7 linked regions of the Homo sapiens genome follow. The protein of the gene in region 6 interacts with the protein of the main gene of each other region in a pairwise test. Each region holds a gene or a part of one and is shown on either strand. Other genes may lie near its edges. The genes, in order: COL9A1, LOXL4, TUT7, RBFOX1, SPATS1, alpha-crystallin A2 chain and TMPRSS6.

Region 1 (3,500 bases), on a different chromosome or scaffold from region 6:
TTCTTTGGAGACATGCACAGAAACAATTTGAAATCATTGTATCACCCTGCTACACTCCGTGATATGGGTTTTGTGACTAGAATTTAACAGCTCCGTGCTAGTATGAGAGAAAGAGAGAGAGAAAGAGAGGTTGGCCTCAAGATTTATTTGTTGAGCTCTAAATTCCTTTGTTTCCTTCAAAAGAACACTTGTCCTCTAAGACATATTTTCTAAATTCCTATCATAATATTATAAAACATCCTTTTAAAGCATTGCTCAAAGTATAACAATTCAAAATGATAGAACTATCTTGTACTAGTTGGCACAATTATTGTGTCAACATGTAATTCCTTACCTTTATATCTGGGGATCTCTGCAGTAAAATCATGAACAGAGCTCTAAAATCCTTCACTTCTACAATACGTCGTGCAAGACCTACTTCTAAATAAATCAATATTATGCATCTATATAACTTTCATTCTTGTTGACCAGACATCATATGGCTTTCTAACCTCATCTCTCACCACTCTGAAGATAGTATGTCTCACCCTCCTCTCTCTCTCTCTTTCACACACACACACACACACACACACACACACACACACACACACATTTTCATATACATATATCATCCAAATCAGCGAGTCCCTAGGCCTTTGAATGTGATCTACTTATTAACTTTTTCCCTTAATGGTGTTTCCCTCAGCTATAATGTACTTTCTCCTCTCTTTTTGCCAATCCAAATCCTTTCATTTCAAAGTGCATTGCTTCCAAGAAGCATGGGATTCTTGACTAACTGAATCTGTCACCTACCTCAACCTTACTTTGAATATTTTTATTAGTTATGTGTACACAATATGTGCCACATCAGTATGGCTTTCTTTCTAAGTTGCCTCAGAAAGACTCTGGGTGCACTAGGTGGGCATGTAACACTTTCCAACTTTAAGCTCCTCAAGACCAGAAGCTATCTACTTAACTTCCTCTGATTCCAAATTCCATCTGGGACATGCTGCACTCAGCTGATTATCAAAGATGCTTGAGATGTTCATTTTTACCAATCTAGTTTTGCTTTAATCTGCCATAGTGTGTGGTTTTATACTTACTGGAACAGAAACTTGAGGATTATCTGCAAGTTTTCCCAGCACAGCAAAGCCATCAATGTCAATTGGGCCTCTTGGCTTTATAGGTAAAGATTCAATCCTGTTGCAGTCAACAAAAAGAGTAGCACTACTCCTCTCCACGCCAATCATGATCTTATGCCACTGGGAATCAAACAAGGAGGACAAATTCGAAAAGGCTGCTGTTTGGAGACTTCCATCCAGTCCCTTGTATGAAAATACAACAGATTGTGTTTGGCCATTAATCTTTATGCCAACTTGCTCCTTCCCAGAGGAATCCTGAATCTGCCAAATGTTCCAGTTCTTTTTGAGAGTGCTTCCAGTCATTCGAAACGTCGTCAAGAAGGAGTATTCTTCAGGCAGTCCACTGGGATATAAATTCCTGAGTAAAATTTTTAAATAGTAAACATGCATCTTGTTTCCTGTACCCATATGTATTTACCACATTCCCTTTTGAGGCCATTTTAGATGCCAGACCTATAGAAAAGCTACAGTGTAAAAACCTATGTACCGTTTGTTCTTTCATGACTGTTCATAAAGACCTTTACAGAAGTTCAATCATTCCTGTACATTCATGGTCCGTCTTAAATTACACATTTTAAAAACACCCTCCCTCATGGCTAAGGAAGGTTCCCAATGCCACATAATCCCAACAATATTACTATTTATACTACCCAAAGAGCTACTGTTCAGCAATTTCATCTCAGCCAAAAAATACATTCTTGCAAAGTTCTTGGCAATATTTCATTCACAAGTGAGAGAGGAGATCATTAGGAATGTAAATCAGCTGTACTAGCTTATGAAACAATTTAATTAAAGCAGCTAGCAGCTTCTAATTGTTTTATTTTAAAGTAGCATGTTAAGATTATTTGTTATTTCCATAATTGCTTGGGTATTCCACTCCACAATTATATCCCAGACCCATATAAGTATTTTGAGAACCAGTAACTGAGGACTTCAGGAGCTTCTTCACACTGAGGATGTTTGTCTTTTTTTAGGGAGTTCAAATTATGATGTTAAAGTAGCAGTTTGACACTGGATATGTGGCAAGGGAAAAGTGACCAATTCTTACTTCTCTACTGCAACTCTGTTGTTGCTTCTTTTTTTTTTTTTTTTTTTTTTTTTTATGGAGTCTCACTTTGTTGCCCAGGCTGGAGTGCAATGGCGCCATCTCAGCTCACTGCAACCTCCACCTCCTGGGTTCAAGTGATTCTCCTGCCTCAGCCTTCCAAGTAGGTGGGATTACAGGCGCCCACCATTATGCCTGGCTAATTTTTTGTATTTTTAGTAGAGATGGTGTTTCGCCATGTCAGTCAGGCTGGTCTCGAACTCCTGACCTCAGGTGATCCTCCTGCCTCAGTCTCCCATAGTGCTGGGATTACAGGTGTGAGCTACTGCATCCGGCCCAGTTGTTCCTTAATCTGCCAACTAAGTCTGTATCATTGCTAACTCCTTTACTGCTTTAAATGGCAGAATAAAACCAGTAGTGTCCCTGAGGCATCTCTACCCTATACAGAGACTGTGGTCTGGAGCTGCACCAGCTACCTGGATATTCTTTTGCTGAAGCCAAGCTGCTAAAAGCTGAAGACTGAACTTTAAAAATCAGCATGTTAAATGTAAGCATCATCTTTCAAGGACTTGAACATTATGTCTTTTTACATTTCTCCTTCTAAGCGTAGAAAAATTCCTAAGCAAGGAAGAAATGCTAGGCAAACTAAATGCTAATGAATTTTCTGTGCTAAACAATAAAAATTTTATATTTCTGAGAACAGTTATGGACCAGGACCCAGAATCCCAAATAACCTTCCTTCAAGTCAAATTCTTGTTATGTAGCCCTCTTTAATTTGCTAAGATCTTCTATCTTTACTTTGATTTTAATTATAAAACTTTATTATGTCTTATAACAACATAAACAAATCTTTAACTTCTTTTATACAAATATTTTTACAAGCCCTCAATAAAATAAGTCAACTATCTCAACAAATTTTATCACTTTGTTAGTTTTCTAAAGATAACAAAAAGGTTAACTTTTCATCTGAATACTCTTTCATCATAGAAGTATTTTTTTTAACCATTACTTTGTAATATGACTGGTTTGTATTTAGGGTATGGGATGAATTATTTTATCCATACATCTTTTTTTCACTGGTGACATGTATTAATCTTACTGCAAAGTTTTCAGTTCACTACCTATGTTTTATATCCCTCAAGTGTACATTTTAAAATATTCAATATGGAGCTACAGAAAAAAATTATACAAGAACCATTGACTGACCTATTTTCCCCATATGAAACTGTCTACTACATGACTCCAGATATTTGTTTTTAATATACTTCCTGTTTATCAATCAGTTTGTCATATTTTCTTTGACTTTATATTTTTCAGAATTATATCTATTCTGG
Region 2 (3,500 bases), on a different chromosome or scaffold from region 6:
TGAGGAGGAGGCACCAGCAGGGGCTGAGCCCCCACAGCGGGATCCCCAACGGGGCTCCTTCAAGTTCCATGGCGGTGGCCAGAGCCAAGGATGGGGAGTTCCAGTCCTGCTTCTGACTTCCCATAGCTGTCACCCTGAATAAGCTGTTTTTCTTGATCTCCATTTCTTCAATGACCAATCACCCCCACAGCCTCATCAAGGATGCCGTCTCAAGTGTGGCGCTAAGGCATCTGTACCACCTCACAAGGCCATCTCAGTGTGGCACTAAGGTGTCTGTACCACCTCACGAGGCTATCTCAGTGTGGCACTAAGGTATCTGTACCACCTCACGAGGCCATCTCAGTGTGGCACTAAGGTGTCTGTACCACCTCACGAGGCCATCTCAGTGTGGCGCTGAGGCATCTGTACCACCTCACGGCATCTGTACCACCTCATGAGGGCATCTCAGTTTGGCACTGAGGCGTCTCTACCACCTCATAAGCACTTGCTCATCTCCTCTTTAAAACAAAGGAGCAGGCTCAGGAGCAGGCTCAGGATCAGTACCAGCCCTCAGTGGAATGTAGTTAGGATTTAATTACTGTTTTTACGGTCACCTTCTATTCAAGGCGGGTGATGTCAGCTTTCCATTTATGGTAGGGCTATAAATGATCCCTTTTAAATACATTCCAAGGTTCTACAGTTCTGTGATTCACTCTCCTCCTCCCAGTCTGGTTCCTCTCTCCTGCGTGTCCTGGACCTCCCCGCACCCCCCACCAGGCAGTGTCCCGCCCGTGCCTCCAAGCTGTGGTGTGAGTGCAGGATGCCCAGGGCTCACCTCTGCCCAGGACCCTTTGCGTTGTGGCTTTGTCTTCGGTGGGCGGAAGTGAGGCCCTGCCACACAGCTGACCACAGCGTGCATGCCACCTGGGCAGGCTGGCCGCAGCTTGCCCCGGGCTGGAGCCACCTGCACCTGGCAGTTGGCCATGTGGGGCTCTGTCCCCAGGCAGGTGACCTGGTGGATCCAGAAGGAGTTCTTATTCGTCAGGCTCTTCAGCCTAGAGGACAAGGGAGACTGAGGGTGGAGGAAGGGCTGAGGGAAGAGCTTCAGGACTAAGGGAGGCCAAGGTAGAAAGGAGGGAAGGGGAGGGTAGGGGATGGGATAGAGGCCCTTCATGCCACACCCCTTTGCCTCCTCCCTCTAGGGTGCTGCTCCTCACCTAGACTTAGGGTCCCTCATCTTCAGATCCCAGACTTTCCTGTTATGGGAGAAAACAGATAGGAGGTGGAAGGGGTGTGGAAGTCCCACCCCCTGCCACCTGGTTCCTCATAGTTGTCCTTAAGTTTGCACAGGACTTTACATTTTGTAAACTTATTCACTAATCTGATTTCAATGCTGAGCTTCACAGCAGCCCTGACGGGGTGGCCACCTCACAAATAACCATTTTACAAGGAAGGCAAGCAAGGTCCCTCGGCCAGTCCTAGAGTGGGGGCAGGTGGATCAGGCTTGCCCTCTCCGAAGTCCAGAGGAAGGGGAGCATTTAGGGAGGGCCCAAGAGAAGGGGCCCTCTGGGGACAGGTGGGAGGTGAAGGCCTTGCTGGTGGGGGCGGCCCGCCCAGAGACACCCAGGCTACCATCAGGCCTGCCCTCCTCATGGGTGGCAGGCAAGTCAGCGAGACCCAGGTGTGCAATTACCAGGCAGGGGGAGTCAGGCTGCATCCCAGGATCCCCAAGGATGGAGCCAGAGGCTGACCAGCACCCCTGTTTCCTCAGAACGGGGTTCCTCTAAGTCACTGCAACAAGGGCCTTCTAACCCTTTAGGGAAGCAGGATCAAACTGATTGGGGTGGCAGATGACTCAGACGTACTACGGGAGACTTCTCACTTGATGGGAAACACACAAGTCCTCCCTGACACGGATCTGGCAGAACCATGACTGTGGCTGTCGTTTACTGGTTGATGCAATCAGTTGTGACAGTTCCGCCTTGTTTCTGACAGAATATTTTTATGTCTCCTCTCTCCAGGTGCCCCACCCCACGCCTCACTTACACACAACCCAGTCACAGCCTGGCTTGATCAGAGCTGAGGAAATTCAGGAGGGAAGCGTTGGGATATTCGCAGTGGAATTGAGGATGGAGGCTCAGAGGCCCTCCCCAAAGCCCTAACGCCAGTCACTGGCTGAGCTGAGGCCAGAACAGTTTGTCTAAACTCTACACGTGGGTGTCACTGCAAGTATCTGCAGGAAAGTCTAGTGTTTTAACCAAGGACACGCGGTTTTATGTTCAACTGTTTTCACCGGGGGCGGGGGGTGGGGGGGCGTTCTGTACCTAGTTAATTCTGTTTACATAATTCGAGAGTGCAGTGTTTGTTTTCTGACTGTTTCTAGGTATTTCCCAGGATCCTGAAGGTCCTCCTTATTCACTTTCCTGTTTATTATTCTGAGGCACCCGTGAAGCAAGAAATCTGGGCACATTCCTCAGTAGGGCCTGTTTTCTCTCCCCCAATCCCAACACCTGCTGGATGTCCTGCCACAGACAACACCACTGCCAGTCAGTACTCACTGAACTCTGCGAGGTCCCACATGCCACACACATCACACACTCGCCTGTGTGCATACTTACTTGCCCCTCACATGAGTCCACACTCAGACTCATGCACACACCCTACATCACATGCACGCACATGAACACACACTCAGTCCCTGCCCCACAACCCTGCCTCCTGTGGGGCCTACGCCAGCCGCCCTCCTACCTGTAGTAGTGGCTGTCGACAGGCACCTCGCTGGGGAAGCCCAGCATCCCGCACACCACCCTGCTGTTGTTCATGGTCCAGCCCTGGTCACACACCTGCCGCCAGTGGCCCTCATACTTCACCTCCACGGCTCCCTCGGTCACTGGGCTATGCTGCTTGGCACTGGCAAGGATGGGCTTGAGCCGCACCTCCTCCAGCCGCCGGCCCTGCGGGGTGCACAGTCACCTGTGGGCCTCGGGGCTCCTGCTCCTCCAGTGGAGCCTGCTGCAGATCTTCATGCAGAAAGGCTGGGGCTTGGAGCTTTTCGAGACCATCCCACCCAGCCCGGTCATTGAACAGGCCAGGAAACTGAGGCCCAGAGAAGGGGAGGCATTATCAAAGGCCACAGAGTAAGTGCAAGGCAGAACCTCAGCTTGTCTAAGCCCTTTCCCTCAGTTCCTCGAATTTGTCAAATTGGAGAGAACTAGGCAGATCTGGCCCCCGCTGGGATCAGGATGGGAGCCCTTGGAGTTTGGGAGGCTTTTGCTGGGCATGGAAGGGCCTTCTCTGTACCACCCTGAGAGAGCTGAGATGGGCATAGACCAGCTGCTTGAGACCACAGCAGGATCCTATGGCCCACAAGAACCCCCAACCCTAGCCCTGGGATGACTTAGACCAGTACAGAGTCCCCATCACAACACGCTGCATTCAGTGGCCATGGCCAGCTGTCCTGAGGCTGGAGGCTGCCTGGCAGCAGAGCCCTGCCCTGCCCGCTCCTGTTGTTTGGCTTGGGC
Region 3 (3,500 bases), on a different chromosome or scaffold from region 6:
CAATAGCTTTTCCTATAATTCACACTGAAAAAAGTAATTTCCTCTAAGGTGCACAAATTTGTTTTCAATCATACTTTATTATATTAAGCTTCAAAATCAGTGGTCTATTTTTCTCAATCACAAAGGTTCTGTCAAGTAATACAAAGTCATCTGGTGGCTTTACAAGGCAGAACTGATTAAAAATGGAAGTTGTCTAAGTCCCAAACACTACAGTTTGAGGACACAAATAAACCCCCCAGAAATTTTAAGCATTATTACATTTTACCTCTTTATCCATAGCGGCATTACAAAGGATTTTTAAGCATCTCACTGAAATGACTTGATAATACCATAACATGAAACTGGAGAGACCTTTGAAATATCTAGACTACAGGAACTTAAACTGGTTTTCTTTAAAGCAGAGAACATTTTCTTTTTCAAATAAAATAAGAATAGCAGCTAACATTTACTGAGTGCTCACCACATGCTCGGCACTGAGTTAAGCATTCTGTAAGTGACCCTATGAGAGGGTACCAATATTATCCCCATGAGTAGGGAGGAAACTGGTGCACAGAAAGGCGAAGTCACTTGCCCAAGGACACACAGCTGGGAAGTGGGAGAGCTGGGATACAAATTCACATATTCTGGCTCCACAGCCTATACTCTTCTCCACTACAGAGACTCCAAATAAGAAACAGATAAAAGTGGTTCTGGTGGCAGCAGAGGTAGGGTGGTACCACCACTCTCCTCCTCCTCCCAGTGTTCAAGGATTCTAGAAAACACAACTGGAAAATCTGATTCACCACTAACTCCTCATTTTAGGCATGAGTAAAACATGAACTGGAGGAGTGACATGACTTGTTTGTATAAAGCTGGGATTCGATTCCAAGAATTTTGTGGATGTTACTGTCAATTTACCCCAAAAGGTAACGGGAAGATCAGGGGCCTTTCACCTATTTGGGAGAGAATCTTATTCTTATTACTAGGATAATGACATTGCAGAGATTTTTGTTTGAAATTCTAATGGCTATTCTTTCCTTGTGCATAAATTCCCCTGCCCACCCCCAACAGTATGGGACCGGTACATTAAATCATATATGCATTCACTGTTATTTTAGTAACTGAAAGCTAGTTAACCTTTCATACATTTAAACCTCATAATACCACCTAAGACTAAGCTCTTTGAGGATAGATATGGATTTACCTTTGAATTCTGAGTCTCTTTCAAAGGAACCAGCACAAAGAAACTACATAAATAACTGTGGATTTAGTGATCTAATATTTTTTTTAACCTTTTCTCATTACTTGTCTGTTCGAGGTACTAAACAGACTGGCAAATGAAAGAGCCACGAAATAGTAAAGATAGTTAAGGAAAGAAGACAAGACTGACTAATCCACAACTTCACAATTGGCAAGTGAAACTGACAACTAGAAACAAAAGAGAACAGACCTGTCCCCTTTTAATCGGCGTTTCTCTTGGTGCCTCTTCTTTTGTTATGCCTGTGTCCCCTGCAGCACTGTCAGTATGTTCCCAGATCACAACATCTTTTTCAATGTCTTGAAGGTTGAAATTCCCTAGTTTGCTTAATGAGAATCCTTCAATCTAGGAAAAATTAGACACATGCTAAAATAAGATAGAAATAATCTTATATCAAACACAGTCTACTAATCTTGGAATAAAAAAATACTCATAGTTCAACGAAAATACAAAAGATATAATTTATGGACTATCACAGAGACATCTATACATTTAAAAATATTTTTAAAAGTAAAAAACAAGGTTTTGATTTGCAAAAGAAATGGTGACTTTGTGAAATAATTCCTCAGTAAATATTCTAAGAGTAGGCAAAATGGCCTAGTGGCTGACGTCATGGGTTCTGAAGTAAAACTGCCTGGTCCCAAATCTCAGCTCCTTCATATACTAGCTGTATAACCTTGAGTAAGGTACTTACTCTCTGTAGGCCTCAGGTTCCTTTAAAAAGGGGTAACACTAGGACTTCCTTCATGGGATGGTTATGATATAAAAAAAATGACCATAAGGCACTCAGATAGAGGTAGTATCTGCTTGTAGCATACAGCACATAGTAACTGCTTAATAAATACAAGACAACTATATTGCTAGAAAATGAAAATTACAAGAACTAGATCCAGCTAATTAGAAAATAATTTTAAATACTATTAATTCTGGGTATGCTGGACATTTTCAAAGTAAATTTTATGTGCTATTAATGAATATTAATGCAAAAGAAAATGGTCTAGTTGAAAAGGCTTGTGAAATGTCAAACGGAGCTGAACAGGTTTCTTCATCGTATGATAGGATTTATCACAGCCTTTAAAACAGGTTAATGAACAGGCCACGCATGGTGGCTCATGCCTGTAATCCCAGCACTTTGGGAGGCTGAGGTGGGCGGATCACCTAAGGTCAGGAGTTCGAGACCAGCCTGACCAACATGGAGAAATCCCGTCTCTACTAAAAATACAAAATTAGCCAGGCATGGTGGCGCATGCCTGTAATTCCAGCTACTCAGGAGGCTGAGGCAGAAGAATTGTTTGACCCTGGGAGGCAGAGGTTGCAGTGAGCCGAGATGGTGCCATTGCACTCCAGCCTGGGCAACAAGAGCGAAACTCCATCTCAAAAAAAAAAAAACAAAACAAAAAACAAACAAAAACAGGTTAATGAACAAAATAATATGGGATGGAGTATGGATGTGACATCACATTTCCCAAATGTATTTTTATACCAAATGGGCTACTTCATTGGTTTAGAAGAGAGTGATCCTTCTAAAACAGAAGACACACTCTCCTGTTCATAGTGGTTTCTGTCTCACTCTAGATGAAGTGCAGTCCTTTCCAGGGCCTGAGTAACCTGGCTCTTTTCTACTTCTCTGATCCTTCTATCTTCTTGGCTCAGAGATGACACCTGGTATTCCCTCTGCTTAAAATGCTCTTCCCCCTAACAAAGTGAGGGAGACTATGACTCATTCTCCCTCACTTTATTCAGCTCTGCTCAAATGTTTTCTCTAAGGAGCTCCACATTTATCATTCTCTGTCCTCCTTACCCTGGTTTATTTTTCCTCAGAGAAAGTACCACCACTGCATATATATTTATTAGTCTCTTGCCCCAATTGGATGTATAAATTCGAGGGCAAGAATTGTGTTTTGTTCACTTCTTTTTTTTTCTTTTCTGAGGCAGAGTCTCACCCTGTTGCCCAGGCTGGAGTGCAGTGGCATGATCTCGGCTCACTGCAACCTCTACCTCCTGGGTTGAAGCGATTCTCCTGCCCCAGCCTCCCAAGTAGCTGGGATTACAGGCGCCTGCCACCATGCCCAGCTAATTTTTTTATATTTTTTTAGTAGAGATGGAGTTTCACCACGTTGGCCAGGCTGCTTCAACTCCTGACCTCAGGTGATCCACCCACCTTGGCCTCCCAAAGTGCTGTGATTACAGGCGTGAGCCACCATGCCCGGCCCTGTTCACCACTTCTAACAGTAACACCCAGAATTAGTTGGTGCCTGGCCAT
Region 4 (4,274 bases), on a different chromosome or scaffold from region 6:
CTACGACTGAAACTCTGATTTTACAGGTGACAACCCGAAGCTCAGAGAGGTAAAGCAACTTGCCCAAGGTCACACAGCTGGCAGATAACGGATCCAGAAGCCCTGTGCTCTTCTGAGCCATAAAGCTCCACTCTCTGGACCCCTAAGGTGTCACTTCCACTACCGCGAGGAATGATGACTTTTCTTCCTAACCCGAGGCAACCATAAGCTAACTTAAGGAAAGCCCAGGGGATTCTTCCAAACGGAGGGCCTCCCTGACGAGCTCAAAGAGGACACAGGTTTTGAGTCAGCCCCACTTTTTACCAGCACAGCCACTGCCAGCACCACCTTTACCCTTCACAGGCCCCAGGTCCTTTGCTTCTGAACATAAAAGATCTTAGCTAAAAATAAATCTGCCAGTAGCTCCAGCCGGGGCCTCTGTGGTCACTTAAAAATTGAAAGAATCCAGGCCCTCTCATCTTTTTTTTCTCTCTTTTGTAACAAAGATAAAATGATAAATGGAGGGGAGATGAACTAGGACAGGGGGCAGGGAAGGGATGGCAGGCTGGGGCATGTCCTAAACTTGGGCTGTCAAGGCCAGGCCTCTCTGCACAACGGAGTTTAAAAATAAAAATAAACAATCATTATTCTAATAAAGGAAAACCCAAGTTAGGAGACATGATGTTTCAACTCAACAAAGCTATTTCACCACACTCCCCCACTTCTTTTCAAGTTCAACTGAAAAGATCCGCCTTTGGGGTGCCAATTGCCCGGACTGCCTGACCAGGATTTCCAAGCTCTTCAGTAGCCGCACCCCAGATGTTCCAGTGCCAGCAGGTGCACCCCAGCTCTGGCCCACACAGGAGCGATGAGCTCTCCCAGCCCCCTGACCATTCCCTGGCAGCAAGGAATGGAGCTGGGGGCTCCAGGACAAGGTTAGATCGGGGTCTTCCCCTCCCTTGCTGAGTGGACAGCTTCCGGGCTCCGCGTGACACCTGGTCCCCGCAGCTGGCGCCAGGGAGGCTCCAGGAGCTCACAGCCAAGTGGCCTCCTGGGCGGTGGGGAGATGGGAGCGGCGCCCCACTAGCCCCGCCCTCGCTTCCATAGCTGGACAATTGGTTGATTGGAGCTGACAAGCCCCCCCCTGGCCTGCACAACAACACAGGGCTAAGATCTGCTACCCCTGTGTTTCCTTCTCTGGGGTGAAGGTTCTCTAAGGCTCCCAGGAACCAGGGGCACAGTAGGAGTTTCCCATTCGCAGGTTTCCCGGCTGGCCCCCTCCCCTGGGGTCGAGGTGGCACCGCGGGGCATCGATTCCAGTGCCAGTAAACACAGCGGCGCTTTCTCCACATAAGTGAGCCTTCTCTTCCCCTCCTCCCACAAGGGGTTCGGGGCACCTAAACACCCTCCCGGGTCACTAAGATGCCTCCTCCTGCACACCCTGCGGGCGGAGGCAGCGGTCCGGGGGCGCGCTGAGTGCACGCTTGCAGCCGGCCAGGGAGACTAATCAAAGTGCGCAGGCAGGCTCCCGCTGCTCCTGGCACCTAGGACTCGCTCCCAGGAGGACGGACGAGGTAGCCTGGATGCTTCGGAGGGGCGCTCTGGGGCAAGGAAGGACGTGCTTCTGGAAGCGACGCACAAGGGGGCTCAGGGTCTCGGCCTCCTGGGGGTAGGGGGGGACACGCCTCGAGATCTTTCCACACACCCTGAAAAAGTTCCCGTCCAGAGCGCCCAGACTGGCGCTAGGAGGAGGCCAGTTCTCGGGGACCTAGCGCTTCCCTCCATGAGACCTTCTGGACCTGACCCACCAGGTCAGGGTGGGTGCAGAGGCAATGACTCCGCCTGGACTTACCTAGAACTCCCGGCGAGCCCGGCTGCGGTCACGTTCTCGGCCCCAGACCCCCGAATTCCCGTGCGCTCTCTGCACCCCCAGCCACACTCACCATAAGCTGGAGGCGGCGGAAGGGGGTGCTGGTTTCTCACGCACTGTCCGCAACTTCGCGGGCAGGTCAGCCCCGCCCTGGCGCGCCTGCCTGGGCGCGGCGAGGGTCCGGACAGGCGGGGACCCTGGCGGCCACTGGGTGGGGGTCTGGAGCGCAAGGACTCTCAATCCCGGGCGCGCGGTCCGCTCCTGCTCTCTCTGCCTGGGCAAGAAGCTCGGAGTTCTCCTGCTCCGGACGCCGGGGCGGGGCCCACGGCTGGCTGTCCCCTCCAGATGTGGGGTGCTCGGCTCGGCTCACTCCTTCCTTCTTCAGCCCCGGAGGCGCGCGCGTGGGTCCAGCCAGTGCCGCCGCCTCTGCTGTTCCCGGGGCTGGCAGAGCGCCCCCGCCCCACCGCGGGTGCTGCTGGGGGGCTGGGGCGGAGGGGGAGGGATTCCCCTCCGCGAGTTCGGGTTTCCCCACCCGACGCGGCCCCTGGGCTCCGTCCGCCGTCCGCCACCCTCCGCGCTGCTTGGAGAACCACTTCAGGGCAGCGCAGCCAGTCCCACCGACTCTGGCTGGAGGAGGCGGCGGCAGCGCGGCTCGCACGGGGACTGGAAAGGAGGTGACCTTCAAACCCCGCGCTCGGGAGACCAGGAAGGGGGCTGGGGTGATCGAGGGAGCGGTGTGTGCACCCAGACGGCCAGCAAGAGCGCTTGTAGGAGGGCGGGAGAGAATAAAGAGGAAATCTTCCAGTAAAAATATAGATTAGAAAATAAACAAAGGAGAGCCGGAGAGAGCGCGAGAAAATGTGTGCATGTGTGTGTGTGCGTGTGTGTCTGTGTGTGTGTGAGCGCGCGACAAGCAGCGAGCAGCCCCGGCTGCGGAGCCAAAAATAATCTGGTGCGCGAGGGAGCGCCCCCTCCCCCTTCCCCTCGCCAGCGCCGCCGCCGCCGCGGTCACGCGTGCAGCCCTGGATTCCAGCGGGCGGCGGCGGCGGACACGCGACCCGGTACCCTGGTCTCCTGGCCTAAAGGGGACAGAGGGTGAAAGTTGGATGCTGGGGCAATGAGCCCAGGACTTTCACCTGCGCCCGTCCTCGTCCTGGTAGTCCCCAGGTGGGCTCACTCATTGAGCACCAGCGCCCTCCTCCCAACCCCAATCAAAGTAGACAAATCCCCCACTAGAGACGCCAAGTGGAGGCAGCTTCTTGCCCCAGTCCATTTCTTCTCTGAGGAAGTTTTCTGGCAAGTCTTCAAATCTTCCGGCCAGGCAGAGATCGAGCCCTATCCAAGATTCAAAAAGTTCTCCAGGCTGGATGGGATGCAGGGCTGGGGTGGGTGCGGCTGGCCTGGGACGCCCCCACCCCGCACAGCTGGGCCTCTCCTGTCCTGCCCCCTTCCTGGCCACCTACTCCCGCAATGGACGCTGAAGGGGTCTAGGGATTGTCCTCCTAGCAGATGTCTTACAGCCAGAAGCCCCATGACGCCTTAATACACACTAGCACTTAATAAGCATTTACTTTCCACCAGATGCTGTTTTAAGCACTTTACATGGAGTCTTTTCAACAACTGGAAGTAGATACTGGAGGTTTATCCATTTCACAGATGCTTAGAGAGATTAAAGCAATATTTCTCCCTTCCTGGGTCCCACTCTGGACTGGAGTGAGAAACTCTGCTCTTCCCCTACCTTTTCCTTTCCCTCCCTCCCTTCCTTCCTCCCTCCCTTTCTTCCTTCCTCCTTTCCTCCCTTCCTTCCTTTCTCCCTTCCTCTTTTTTCCACAAATATTCCAGGGGGTTTTGTTGTACAATAAAGTCAGTCTGAGGTTCAGTGAGTTGTAATTTGTTCAAGGTCACATAGCTGGCAAGGAACCAGGACTCCCCAGGCAGTCTACCTCATTTTATGTGGCACCACCCTGCCTTCTGAAGGGCAGGTGGCATTGGACAAGGCCAGATTCCAGCCTTGAGCACTTGATCTGAGGCGCCTGTTCATTTTCCCATCCTGTGATGTGACTGTGTTTGCACTTATACCATGGATCCTCTTATAAGAAATGCTGTAAGCTTTCCAAAACAGGGGGCCATGTGATGTGCATTCCTTTGTACTAGATGTACGTGTATTTCCTAGCGCCCATCAAGGAGCAGATTCCTTAAGGGTTCCTCTTGCAATCCTATCGGGCTGCGGTTTCTTTCAACCTCAGAATAAAAGAAAGGGAACTTCTGCCTATAACTATATTACTTTTTAAAGCACGCAATATTTAATCATCATTTGAAAAAGTAAGTTTGCAAAATCCAGAAAGATATCTTTATCATTGGTCCCAGCGATTTTGCAATTTGGGTTGATTTTTACCATATGTTTCCTTAGGATTCTCTTTGATAA
Region 5 (3,500 bases), on a different chromosome or scaffold from region 6:
AGGTAACACTACAAAGCAGTAAATGCCATATACTATAGAACAGTGGTTCCAAAATTTTAGCACACCTGAAAATCACCTAGGAAACTTGTTTAAAATGCAGCCTTTAACCCAAGAAATTCTGTTTCAGAAGATCTCTAATAGTTCCCAGAACCAGTAATTTTTATAAACTTTCCAGTTGATTATGATATAGGTGGTCTAAGGAGAACACCTAGAAATAGACTATGGTGGCCAGGCGCAGTGGCTCATGCTTGTAATCCCAGCACTTTGGGAGGCCGAGGCAGGTGGATCACCTGACATCAGGAGTTCAAGACCAGCCTGATCAACATGGTGAAATCCCGTCTCCACTAAAAATACAAAATTAGCTGGGCATGGTGGCACATGCCTGTAATCCCAGCTACTCAGGAGGCTGAGGCAGGAGAATCGCTTGAACCTGGGAGGCAGAGATTGCAGTGAGCCGAGATCGCACCATTGCACTCCAGCCTGGGCAACAAGAGCGAAACTCTGTCTCAAAAAAAAAAAAAATATATATATATATATAGACTATGGTAAAAGATATCACAAGATAATGTCAGGAGGAAGAAAAAGAGGCAATGGTGTGATGTCAGTATAAGGTGTTACTTTTAGGGGGAAAATCTCCCAAACAACACTTCTGAGATAACATGTTTGTTTAAGCTATTAAGTACAATATGGGGCCTTGGTATAATTTCTGGATATCTCACCAAAACAGGTATCAGCCCAAAGGGCTGGCCACTATGTATCAATAGCTGATGGACCCATAACACTGCATGATCAGTTCTAATGCTTGTTTGTTTTTAGACAGACCATCCAATTTCCTGGATGTAGACATTCAGGAGGTAGAAAATGGGAAACATACATTTAGAGACAAATAACCATATAAGGGAGCGAACCGTTCACCAAATAACTTACTCTGCCCCACATTTCAGTGCCCCGATGCGTTTAGGTAGAGCCATGTTCTGACTGATAGATTGTGAGCAGAGATGATATGTGCCACTTTAAAAAGAAGCATTTAAGGAGCTGATGTGAAAAACCTTCCAGCATTTTCTCTTTACCCTTCTATGGCAATCTTAGAAGCCACAGGTTGAGATGGAAAGGTCACAGATAAAAGCAGACAGCATCCTTGGAAAGGAGCTGTCCTGGAGAGCTGCTGGATCCACAGTGGACTTTACAAGAGAAAGGAGCAAACTTTAGTGCTTAAGCTGCAGAGATTTCAGGGACTGTTACTGCGGCAGAATCTATCCTATTCTGACTAATACAATATGCTGTACTGTGGGAAGAGCTACACAATAGAAAATTGTATTTTCAGATCTATTTCCCTACCACCTACAATCATAGATGGCATTTTGTTCTGTGGCAACAGCTAGGCCTTTAGGGAACTCCACCAATATCCTGGTTATGGCTGATGGATAACAGTCAACCATTATTTAAAGATATTTTGATTGATTTTTTGATATAATAATGCGTTGCATTCCAGTTTAAAATGGCAGCTGGTTGGCAGTCCCTGAGCCTACCACTTCATCTCATCCAAGAAATAATGAGTGGGGGCCAGGAGTGGTGGCTCACACCTGTAATCCCAGCACTTTGGGAGGCCGAGGCGGGTGGATCATCTGAGGTCAGGAGTTGGAGACCAGCCTGGCCAACATGGTGAAACCCTGTCTCTACTAAAAGACAAGAATTAGCCGGCAGTGGTGGCACATGCCTGTAATCCCAGGAGGCTGAGACATGAGAATTGCTTGAACTCAGTGGGCGGAGGTTGCAGTGAGCCAAGGTCACGCTACTGCACTCCAGCCTGGGTGACAGAGCGAGACTCTGTCTAAAAAAAAAAGAAAGAAAGAAAGAAAGAGAAAAGAAAAGAAGAAAAAGAAAAAGAAAGAAAGAAAGACAGAAAGAAAAAAAGAAAGAAAGAAAAGAAAGAAAGAGTGGGGAGAGAATTTCACAAAGGAAGAAGTATCCAGTGTCAAGCTTGACAGTATCAAGTGCTGCAGTGAGATCAAGGAAGAGAAGAAATGGAAAAAGACCATTGCGTTTGATGTTTAAAGAAGTCACTGTACATCACCTAAGAAGTAATCATATACTAAAACGAATCAAGCCTGTAGACCCAACTACCACTTCACAGGAAATACACAGGAAAGAGGAACCTGTTAAATGATACCAAGCAATGTAATCAGCAAAGTCCTGATCATGGTGAATACTGCAGGATAAGGCCTAGTTTCTTCACCATACAAATTGCAAGAAAAAAGGAGGGAGAAAGAAACTTAACAGACATACCAACCAATTTCAATCTGTGGGCCTTACTTGGATCCTGATCCAAACAAACTAAATATTTTTAAATTGTGGCATTTATGAGACAATGGGATATTTGGACACTGACTATATTAAGGAATTACTGTTAATTTTTAAAATATGATATTATGATATGGAATTGTGGTTATGTTAATAAAATAATCCTTATCTATCAGAGGCACATATGATATATTTAGAGATGAAATAATATGATGTCTGAAATTTGCTTTGAAATAATCCCTGGGAGGAGGAGTAATGATGAAACAAGTTAGCCAGGTGTTGATCATTATTGAAGCTAAGTGGATGAGTACATCGGGTTTCATTTTGCTATTGTTTGAAAATTTACCTAATAAGTTTTTCTTTAAAAAAATATGAAATATGGGTTACCACTGGAGTTGGAGGAGGAAAGATGGAATATTCGGGGAAGAGGATATTGGAGCCTTCAAATATAAAGTTAGAATTTTATTTCTTAAGTGGAGTAAAAGAACGCAAGTATTTGTGATATTTCATTTTATATAGTCAACAAATGTTTCATAAATATATCATTGCATTTACTCAGTATTTATAAAACCCTAAAGGAAGAAGGGAAAGAAGAAATGAAAGGATGGAGAGAGGGAGGGAGGAAAGGAAAAAGGAAGGAAGGAGGGAAGGAAGGAAGGAGGGAAGGAGGGAAGGAAGGAAGGAGGGAAGGAGGGAAGGAAGGAAGGAAAGAAAGAAAAAGAAGAGGAAAGGAGAAGAAAGAAAAAGAAAGGAAAGGAGAGGGAAGAATCATAAACATAAAATTCAGGATAAGGTGGTTTACTTTTGAGCCAGGAGGGCAGTGATAAGTCAAGATTGAGATTTAGGTCATTATGATAATCCCATTTACTTTTGATAGGTACTTGCAGCTCAAGAGTGCAGGGTAGGCTGGCTGCAGTGGCTCACACCTGTAATACCAGCACTTTGAGAGGCCAAGGCCGGCTAATCGCTTGGGCCCAGGAGTTTGAGACTGGCCTGGGCAACATGGAGAAACCCTGTCTCTACTAAAAATAGAAAAATCAGCCGGGCATGGTGGCACATGCCTCTAGTCCCAGCAACTTAGAGGCTGAGGTTAGAGGATTGCTTGAGCCTGGGGCTGGGGGGCTGGCATTCGGAACTGCAGTGAGCCAAGATGGTGGCACTGCACTCCAGCCTGGGCCACAGAGCAAGACCTTGTCTTA
Region 6 (3,500 bases):
ATAATCCTCGCTCTACAATCATAACCTAGGAAAAACCAGGCCATACAGACACAGGAGCTGAGGGGACATAGTGAGAAGTGACCAGAAGACAAGCATGCGAGCCTTCTGTTATGCCCGGACAGGGCCACCAGAGGGCTCCTTGGTCTAGCGGTAACGCCAGCGTCTGGGAAGACGCCTGTTGTCAAGCGGACCATGGTCTAGCAGTAGCGTCAGTGTCAAGGAAAAACACCGGCTACTTAGCAGACCGGGAAAGGGAGTCTCCCTTTCCCCACGGGAGTTCAGAGAAGACTCTACTCCTCCATCTCTTGTGGAGGGCCTCAGGCCCACCTTCAGTTATCCGAAGGCATACCATCTCCCTGTGACGCTGTGCTTCAGTGGTCACACTCCTAGTCCGCCTTCGTGTTCCATCCTGTACACCTGGCTCTGCCTTCTAGATAGCAGTAGCAAATTAGTGAAAGTACTAAAAGTCTCTGATATGCAGAAATAATGGCGCAAGCTGTCTCTCTCTCTCCCCCTCTCTGCCTTGGCTGCCAGGCAGGGAAGGGCCCCCTGTCCAGTGGACACGTGACCCACGTGACCCTACCTATCATTGGAGATGACTCACACTCTTTACCCTGCCCCTTTTGCTTTGTATCCAATAAATAACAACGCAGCCAGACATTCGGGGCCATTACCGGTCTCCGCATCTTGGTGTTAGTGGTCCCCCAGGCCCACCTGTCTTTCCTTTTATCTCTTTGTCTTGTGTCTTTATTTCTACAATCTCTCGTCTCTGCACATGGGGAGAAAAACCCACCGATCCTGTGGGGCTGGTCCCTACACCTAGTGAAGACGAGGTTGCCAGGAAAAGTATTTCCACCGAAGGCAAGGTCTGTGATGTAAACTGTAAGACAGTGTCTTCAGCCAATGTCTTCCCCATCTTCAGTTTCTAGCAGTTTGGGTGCAGGGAGGGAGACACCCTTACAAATGGAGATTTCCTTCATATATATAAATTTTTTTTACAAAGAGTTTCAAAATAGCCAGCTAAATGCTAGAAAGCCATATTTTGGATATCAAAGTTACACAAGGGTCTGCATTAGTTAGGGTTCTCCAGAGGGGCAGAACTAACAGAATAGACATATATATGAAAGGGAGTATATTAGGGAGAACTAGTTCACACCATCACAGGGTGAAGTCCCATGATACACCGTCTGCAAGCTGCAGAAGAAGGAAGCCAGGAGTGGCTCAGTCGGAGTCCAAAAGCCTCAAAAGTAGGGAAGCCAACAGTGCAGGCTTCAATCTGTGGCTGAAGGCCCGAGAGTCCCAAGCAAACCACTGGCTTAAGTCCAAGAGTCCAAAGGCCAAAGAACCTGGAGTCTGATGTCCAAGGGCAGGGGGAACGGAGGAGGCATCCAGCACAGGAGAAAGATGAAAGTGAAACTGCCTCTGCAAAAATTACAACTGAGGAAATGATGACAGTGAAAGAGATCAGACCTACCTGACTCCATCTTGCTTCTAACCTTTAGGCTGTCTTTGTTCATGCCTGGGCACAGGCCAACTAACCTTGGGAAGGAATTTAGCTTATAGTTTGACTCTGAAACAAAATTGATAATAGCCATTTCCCAGAAAGATCCCCTTCTTGCCTAGGAACCAGTCTGCCTTTGTAGGAGTAACAAATTAGCTACAAGATTAGAAATTTTAAGGCCCAAGGTGGCTGCCTTCACGTTAGTACCCGTGTGAAGTCGACAGGGACGGTTCCTGTTGTCTTCTTGAAGGCCACATCTGGTCCTCATTCTTGGGCTTATTTGGTGTGCTGTTGAAGGGGCAGACTAGAGAAATGGCAGGGAGCCTCTTATGTAGGGCAGGTAGGCGCCTGTGGGACTAGGTGTGGCATGCAGAAGCTTCTTTCTTGGTATTCCTAGATTGATTGGTATAAGGCTCCTACCCCCCAAAGTAGTTGATCCTTGGAACGAAAGGATGGCCATGTTCAGAGTGTATGACAACATCAGGATCCTGGGAAACTTTGAAAAGCACCCCAAAAGCTGATCAGGGACCCCATATGGCTTCGAGATTGGAAGGGGAATGAATTGCAACGCTGTATGCTAAAGAAGAAAATGGTTGGAAACAGAATGTTTGCTGATGAGCTGCACAACCTCAATAAACGCATCAGCTGTCTCTACAAACACTTTAACTGACATGGGAAATATCGATAGAAGAGAAAGCTGAGAACTTCAGAAAAGGCTCATCTGTCACCCTGGAGAAGGGAAGCTGTACTTTTCCTTATGAGGAAACGGCTTTGTATGCTCTCTGTAATAAAATGGGGCTTCTTTGAAAAAAAAAAAAAGAAATTTTGATTTAAAGGTCATCCAGCCTCTGGCTGTCCAAACCTCCCGAAATTGCTCCTGGGGATAACATCACCATTGTAATCCGAAGATCAGTGCTTGAGGTATTTATTCTGCAAGACCCTGTACTCTATGGATCAGCTGATACCACACAGACCGGCTATCTGGCTCAGCCAGTTCTGCCATTGTACCCAGGAACAGAAGACAGCAAGGAAACCTCACTTTGACCTCCCTGTGATTCCATCTCCAGCCAGATCAATCAGCACTCCTACTTCCTGAGCCGCCAAATTATCTTTAAAAACTCTGATCTGCAAATTCTTGGGATGTCTAATTTGAGTAATAATAAAACTCCAGTCGCCCGCACAGCTAGCTCTGTGTAAATTACTCGTTCTGCATTGCAATTCCCCTGTCCTGATAAATCCGCTCCATCTAGGCAGCCGGCTAGGTGAACTCACTGGGTGGCTACAAAAGCCAGAAGACTCAGCAAGCCAGCTTCTCCCACCCTCCTCCACCTGCTTTGTTCCAGCCACACTGTCAGCCAATCGGATGGTGCCCACCCACACTGAGGGTGGGTCTTCCTCTCTCAGTCCACTGACTCCAATGTCAATTTCCTCTGGCAACACCCTCACAACACACCCAAGAACAATACTTTACCATCCTTCAATCCAATCAGGTTGACAGCTAATATTAACCATCACAGGGTCTTTTCAACTTAGCTTGTTTCTCTATTAGATTACTGACTTCAGGGTGAAGCCCTTTAATGAATAGGGCAAAGGAGGCATTCTCTATGCCTGGAATCAGCATGGATAGCTCTGAAAAGAAGCAAGCCTACTTTACCTGCTTGAGGGCCTACTTTTAACTTTTTATAAACACTTTATCCAACTTATTACATATAAAAAAAGAAAAAACTTGGCCGGGTGCGGTGGCTCATGTCTGTAATCCCAGCACTTTGGGAGGCCAAGGTGGGTGGATCACCTGAGATCAGGAGTTCAAGACCAGCCTGGCCAACATGGTGAAACTTTGTCTCTACTAAAAATACAAAATTAGCCAGGTGTGGTGGTGCATGCATGTAATCCCAGCTACTTGGGAGGCTGAGGCAGGAGGACCGCTTGAACCTGGCAGGCCGAAGTTGCAGTGAGCCGAGATCAGGCCATCCCTTACACTCCAGCCTGGGCAATGAGA
Region 7 (4,288 bases), on a different chromosome or scaffold from region 6:
AGCTGCCCCCTCCCCTGGGCAGCCCTTGATCAGATCAAGAATATGCCTTGGCTTTGGGTCTTGCCTCTGTCCCCTACAGAACAGGCAGGGCCAGCATCTTGCTCACCTCTGGGGTTCCCCATGGAACGCCGCACAGCCCGTCACATGAGTGAAGGATCAGAAAGAATGAGTGAATGAAACTGCCAAGTCTCTAGGCCCCTGGTACAGGGCTTTCTATCTTGCTGCCTCCAGGAAGGAGGACTTGTGAGGCCTGGCACTGGGGCATGGACAATGGTGTGGGCCTGTGGGGTCCCAGGTTCAATGCTCAGTCACCCTATCTTTGTCTAGCACCTGCTTGGTGCCAGGCTCTGTGGTGGCGACAGGGTGGCACATGGTGACTCTAAGAGACCTCATTCCCATCCTCTTGGGTTTCCTGCCCAGCAGGAGGAGGGGCAGTGGACAGTTGTGAAGATGACGGTGCCACTCTTGTCTTTACTATCTTATAATACAACGGCTCCCCCATTCCCAGGGTCCAGCACCTTTGGAAAAGCCTGTGGCCCTACCTTCCAAATGCCCCCCAAAGCCAGCCCCTTCTTGGCCCCCCATGACTCCCACCATCATCCAGGCCACCGTCATCTGTCACCTCGACTCCTGCAATAGCCAATCACCCACCCCCCTACCCAGTGAGTTCTCACACAATGGCCACTGCGTGTTGTCACCATGTGCCCTGCCCACAAGCCTCGCACGGCTTCCATCCACCTAGAACACAGTCCCTAAAGACCCAGGGTCTCAGTTTTCCTGTCCTCTTTGCTGAATGGGAGGTTTGCTCCTTGCTGGGCCTGGGATGTTTTCCTTTCTGCTGGCCTCGTGGCTCCCTCCTTTACCTCCTCCAAAGGGTCAGATGTCACCTCTCCAGAGAGGCCTTCCCTGGGCACTCCCGTCTCTCCTGCATTTTTCTTTATAGCAATTACAGAGGCCTAAATTGCCTGATATGCAAATATGTCATTTATCTGCCTCCTCCCTGTCTGTAAGCTGCATGAGAGCAGAGTCTGGTACTCAGCGGACACTCAGTAATTGTTAAATGAATGAATGACAAGGTCCCAGCTCCTTCCTCCCTACAGAAGTCCAAGGTGCTGTGTGCATATGTGGCCTGGCCAACTTCTCCTGCCTCCTTTTTTCCCACCCTCTCTTTTCCCCGTCGCACCCCAAGGACACTGGACTTCCATTGGTGAGAAATTTTAACAATGGGATGGTAGCAAACATTTATGGATTAAGAGCAGCCAGCCGGCACCAAGAGCCCTCGTGGACCTTGAGCCCTGTCAGTGCTTGTTCACGGCCAGGCGTCCCCACACTCTTCCTTCTGCCTGGGCCCCCACCTCCCAACCTGGCCAGCTCTTATGCAGCCCCTGTCACCTCAGTTCAGACCTCACCTCTTCGCAGCTCTCCCAGAGTGCCCTAGAAGGGGCGGCTGCCCCTCGCGATGTGCAGCTTACCTGTGGGCACTCTCTCTTTGCCCCTCACATTGAACTCCTGGAAGCGGGGACTGTGCTCCAATTGCCACAGGGGCCTGAAGCAGTCCCCCAGCTCTGAGCACCATGGACCCCACCCTGGCACCTGCTCCTCACTCCCTCCTGCCCTTCTGGCCATTGGAGGGTCTCGGGTCTGCCTGCTGGAGGCTGAGCTCCTTGGGGCGGGGCCGCGACTCCCCCAGCAATGCAGATCCGGATTCAACCACTGCGTATGAACTCCTACCATGTGCCAGCCCTGTGCTGGGCAGTGCTGCAAACTCCACTGCAGCCTCCAACAGCCTGGGGTGCCTACTTTGCTGACTCTATTTAATGGCTGGGGAAACTGAGGTAGAGAGAGGTAACATGACTTACCCGAGGTCCCTCAGCCAGGGCAGAGCAGAGCAGAGCAGGGACTCTGGGCTAGGGCCATAGGGGCATCTTTCAGTGAAACCATTAGGCCCTAGAGTCCTGAGAGTGTGGGGGACTGGGTGGGGGTCCCTTCCACACATATAAACACACTCACAGACCCACAGATGTACACAGATGGAGACACGCGGAGGGATATACGCACATCTATTCATGACACAAAAATTCATAGATGCACGCCCTTCCTACACAGACACACACACGAACACACATACACATACATGCCAACTCTGAGCCTGTGAGCCCAGGGTCCTGGGCTTAAGTCAGTACATAGGTGCAATGTGGGGCTCCGGGCCTGTCTCCTACACCAGAAGGCCCAGGTGGGGTACCGGGTGTGGAGGGGGCAGCATGTCCAGTCCTGCGAGGCAGGGGTAGGGTGGCCTCTCCCTTCCTCCTGTCCCTGCCACCTGAATCCCAGGCCACCAACCACCCAGCACTGATGCTGTGCCTGTCCACACACCTGGTGTCACCCTGCGTGGTCCCTCCCCTCCCCAGCTCTGTGGGCCCCTCACCTTCTGCTCACTGATCACCCTCTGGCCGATGAGGCCCTGCAGGCCTGGCCTCGGAGCAGGGTAGGTGGCTCAGGCTGCAGGGAGCCAGGCCCAGCTCTTAGGGTGGACACTGTCACTAGGTCATTTATAGATCCCGGTCCCCTGTCCTGGAGGCCCCCGCTTACCTTTGGGAGCGGCAGATAGGTGCCGGGCCTGCACACAGGCCTCAGGAGCCTCTGTTTGTCCAGGCCAAGGCCTCCCCACCCCCACCCAGCCAGCCCAGGCTGGATCAATGGCCTAGAGCCATGACCAGGGTGTCTGGCCCTTGTCCCCTGTGGCCTGTGGCCTCAGGCTCCATGGAACTCCTCCTGCTGGGTCCTGGACAGCACTGTGACTAAGTACAGGTAAACAGGCAGGAGGTAGGAGAAGGCAGTGCCTGCCCCGCCCCATCTTCCCCCACCCCCGCATGGGCACCCCAGAGGCTGGCAGGCAGGTGCGGGAGATCTGAGCTCTCCCCCGAGGCCCGTTGCCTGGTGACATGCCTGCCTGGTTACAGCCCCTGGTCCCCGAGAGCATGAGGTAGGGACAGCCAAGGACTGGGGACTGTGCAGAGGCCGGTGCAGGTGAGTGCAGGGGCTCACAAGGGTGAGTCCAGGTGCTTACCTGGACAGGCGAGACTAAAGGAGCTGCTGGCCTGAGAGAGAGAAAAGGAGGCTGGGCCCATATACTCTGGGGACTGGAGAGGAGAAAGGGGAGGCAGGGGTGGGGTTTGATGCTATTTTCTGTTTAGCTGGGAATTATTTGAATTCCTACCTCGTTCTTTTTTTTTTTTTTTTTTTTTTTTAAGATGGAGTCTCACTCCGTCACCCAGGCTAGAGTGCAGTGGTGTGATTTCGGCTCACTGCAACCTCCGCCTCCCGGGTTCAAGCAATTCTCCTGCCTCAGCCTCCCAGGTAGCTGGGATTACAGCGCCCACCACCATGCCCGGCTAATTTTCATAATTTTAGAAGAGATGGGGTTTCACCATGTTAGCCAGGCTGGTCTCGAACTCCTGACCTCAAGTGATTCCACCCACCTCGACCTCCCAAAACGCTAGGATTACAGGCATGAGCGACCGCACGCAGCATGAATTCCTACCTGGTTCCGTAGCGCTGTGCTGTCCATGACGGTAGCCGCTGGTCACCCGTGGCTCTTGAGTCAGTCTGAACTGAGAAAAGCTGCACGGGGGAGACGCACACCAGGTTTCCAAGGCCAAGTGCAAACAGGATGTCAACCAACGCGATAACAATTTTTATATTGATTTTATGTTGAAATAACACTGGTGATCATGGGATAAATAAAATGTATTATTAAAAGCAATTTTCTTCTGGCTCTCTTGTTTTTTTTTTTTTCAGAGACAGGGTCTCATTAGGTTGCCAGGCTGGTCTGGAGCTCCTGGGCCCACATGATCCTCCTGCTTCAGCCTCCCAAGTAGCTGGGATTACAGGCGCGGGCCACCACACCCCTTGTTGCATGTGGATATTAGACAGGTTAAGTCACAAGTGTGACCTGCGTTGTTGTTCTATGGAACAGCGTTGCTGTGGAGATGGGTTTGAGCCATATGCGTGCCGAAGTGCCGGATGGGAGCCAGGGCTTTCTAGGGTGCGTGCAGGGCAGCGGGCGTCTGTCTCAGACAAGGCTGACTTTCAGCGAGTCTACATCCTGAGGCCAGAATGCGGGGTGCACGCCTGAGATGCTGTGTGCTGTGGGCATATGGGTCCCAGAGTGTGTGTGTAAGAGAGACAGTCTGGAATTTGTGTGTGTAGATTATGTATGTGTAGAATGTGCGTGTGTGTGTGTGTGTGTGTGTGTGGAGCGTAGGGATTGTGTGTGGGGTATAAGATT

The links.
Region 1: the proteins of alpha-crystallin A2 chain (region 6) and COL9A1 interact in binary tests that used the Homo sapiens proteins (3 or more experiments, as listed by UniProt).
Region 2: the proteins of alpha-crystallin A2 chain (region 6) and LOXL4 interact in binary tests that used the Homo sapiens proteins (3 or more experiments, as listed by UniProt).
Region 3: the proteins of alpha-crystallin A2 chain (region 6) and TUT7 interact in binary tests that used the Homo sapiens proteins (3 or more experiments, as listed by UniProt).
Region 4: the proteins of alpha-crystallin A2 chain (region 6) and RBFOX1 interact in binary tests that used the Homo sapiens proteins (3 or more experiments, as listed by UniProt).
Region 5: the proteins of alpha-crystallin A2 chain (region 6) and SPATS1 interact in binary tests that used the Homo sapiens proteins (3 or more experiments, as listed by UniProt).
Region 7: the proteins of alpha-crystallin A2 chain (region 6) and TMPRSS6 interact in binary tests that used the Homo sapiens proteins (3 or more experiments, as listed by UniProt).

What each region holds. Positions count from the first base shown.
Region 1 is NC_000006.12:70,293,085-70,296,584, forward strand, and holds part of COL9A1 (collagen alpha-1(IX) chain isoform 1 precursor), read right to left. Parts: intron 1,480-3,500; coding exon 1,083-1,479; intron 1-1,082. UniProt on the Homo sapiens protein: Structural component of hyaline cartilage and vitreous of the eye.
Region 2 is NC_000010.11:98,258,195-98,261,694, forward strand, and holds part of LOXL4 (lysyl oxidase homolog 4 precursor), read right to left. Parts: intron 2,934-3,500; coding exon 2,728-2,933; intron 1,236-2,727; coding exon 1,197-1,235; intron 1,035-1,196; coding exon 815-1,034; intron 1-814. UniProt on the Homo sapiens protein: Catalyzes the oxidative deamination of lysine and hydroxylysine residues in collagen and elastin, resulting in the formation of covalent cross-linkages, and the stabilization of collagen and elastin fibers.
Region 3 is NC_000009.12:86,326,911-86,330,410, forward strand, and holds part of TUT7 (terminal uridylyltransferase 7), read right to left. Parts: intron 1,583-3,500; coding exon 1,430-1,582; intron 1-1,429. UniProt on the Homo sapiens protein: Uridylyltransferase that mediates the terminal uridylation of mRNAs with short (less than 25 nucleotides) poly(A) tails, hence facilitating global mRNA decay. Essential for both oocyte maturation and fertility.
Region 4 is NC_000016.10:6,017,550-6,021,823, reverse strand, and holds the start of RBFOX1 (RNA binding protein fox-1 homolog 1), read right to left. Parts: upstream 2,801-4,274; 5' UTR 1,926-2,800; coding exon of another isoform or gene 1,923-1,925; 5' UTR 1,832-1,922; intron 1-1,831. UniProt on the Homo sapiens protein: RNA-binding protein that regulates alternative splicing events by binding to 5'-UGCAUGU-3' elements. Regulates alternative splicing of tissue-specific exons and of differentially spliced exons during erythropoiesis.
Region 5 is NC_000006.12:44,363,150-44,366,649, reverse strand, and holds part of SPATS1 (spermatogenesis-associated serine-rich protein 1), read right to left. Parts: intron 1-3,500.
Region 6 is NC_000021.9:6,505,703-6,509,202, reverse strand, and holds part of alpha-crystallin A2 chain, read right to left. Parts: intron 2,401-3,500; exon of another isoform or gene 1,814-2,400; intron 1-1,813. UniProt on the Homo sapiens protein: Contributes to the transparency and refractive index of the lens. In its oxidized form (absence of intramolecular disulfide bond), acts as a chaperone, preventing aggregation of various proteins under a wide range of stress conditions.
Region 7 is NC_000022.11:37,106,914-37,111,201, forward strand, and holds the start of TMPRSS6 (transmembrane protease serine 6), read right to left. Parts: upstream 2,801-4,288; 5' UTR 2,590-2,800; intron 2,525-2,589; exon of another isoform or gene 2,426-2,524; intron 1-2,425. UniProt on the Homo sapiens protein: Membrane-bound serine protease. Through the cleavage of cell surface hemojuvelin (HJV), a regulator of the expression of the iron absorption-regulating hormone hepicidin/HAMP, plays a role in iron homeostasis.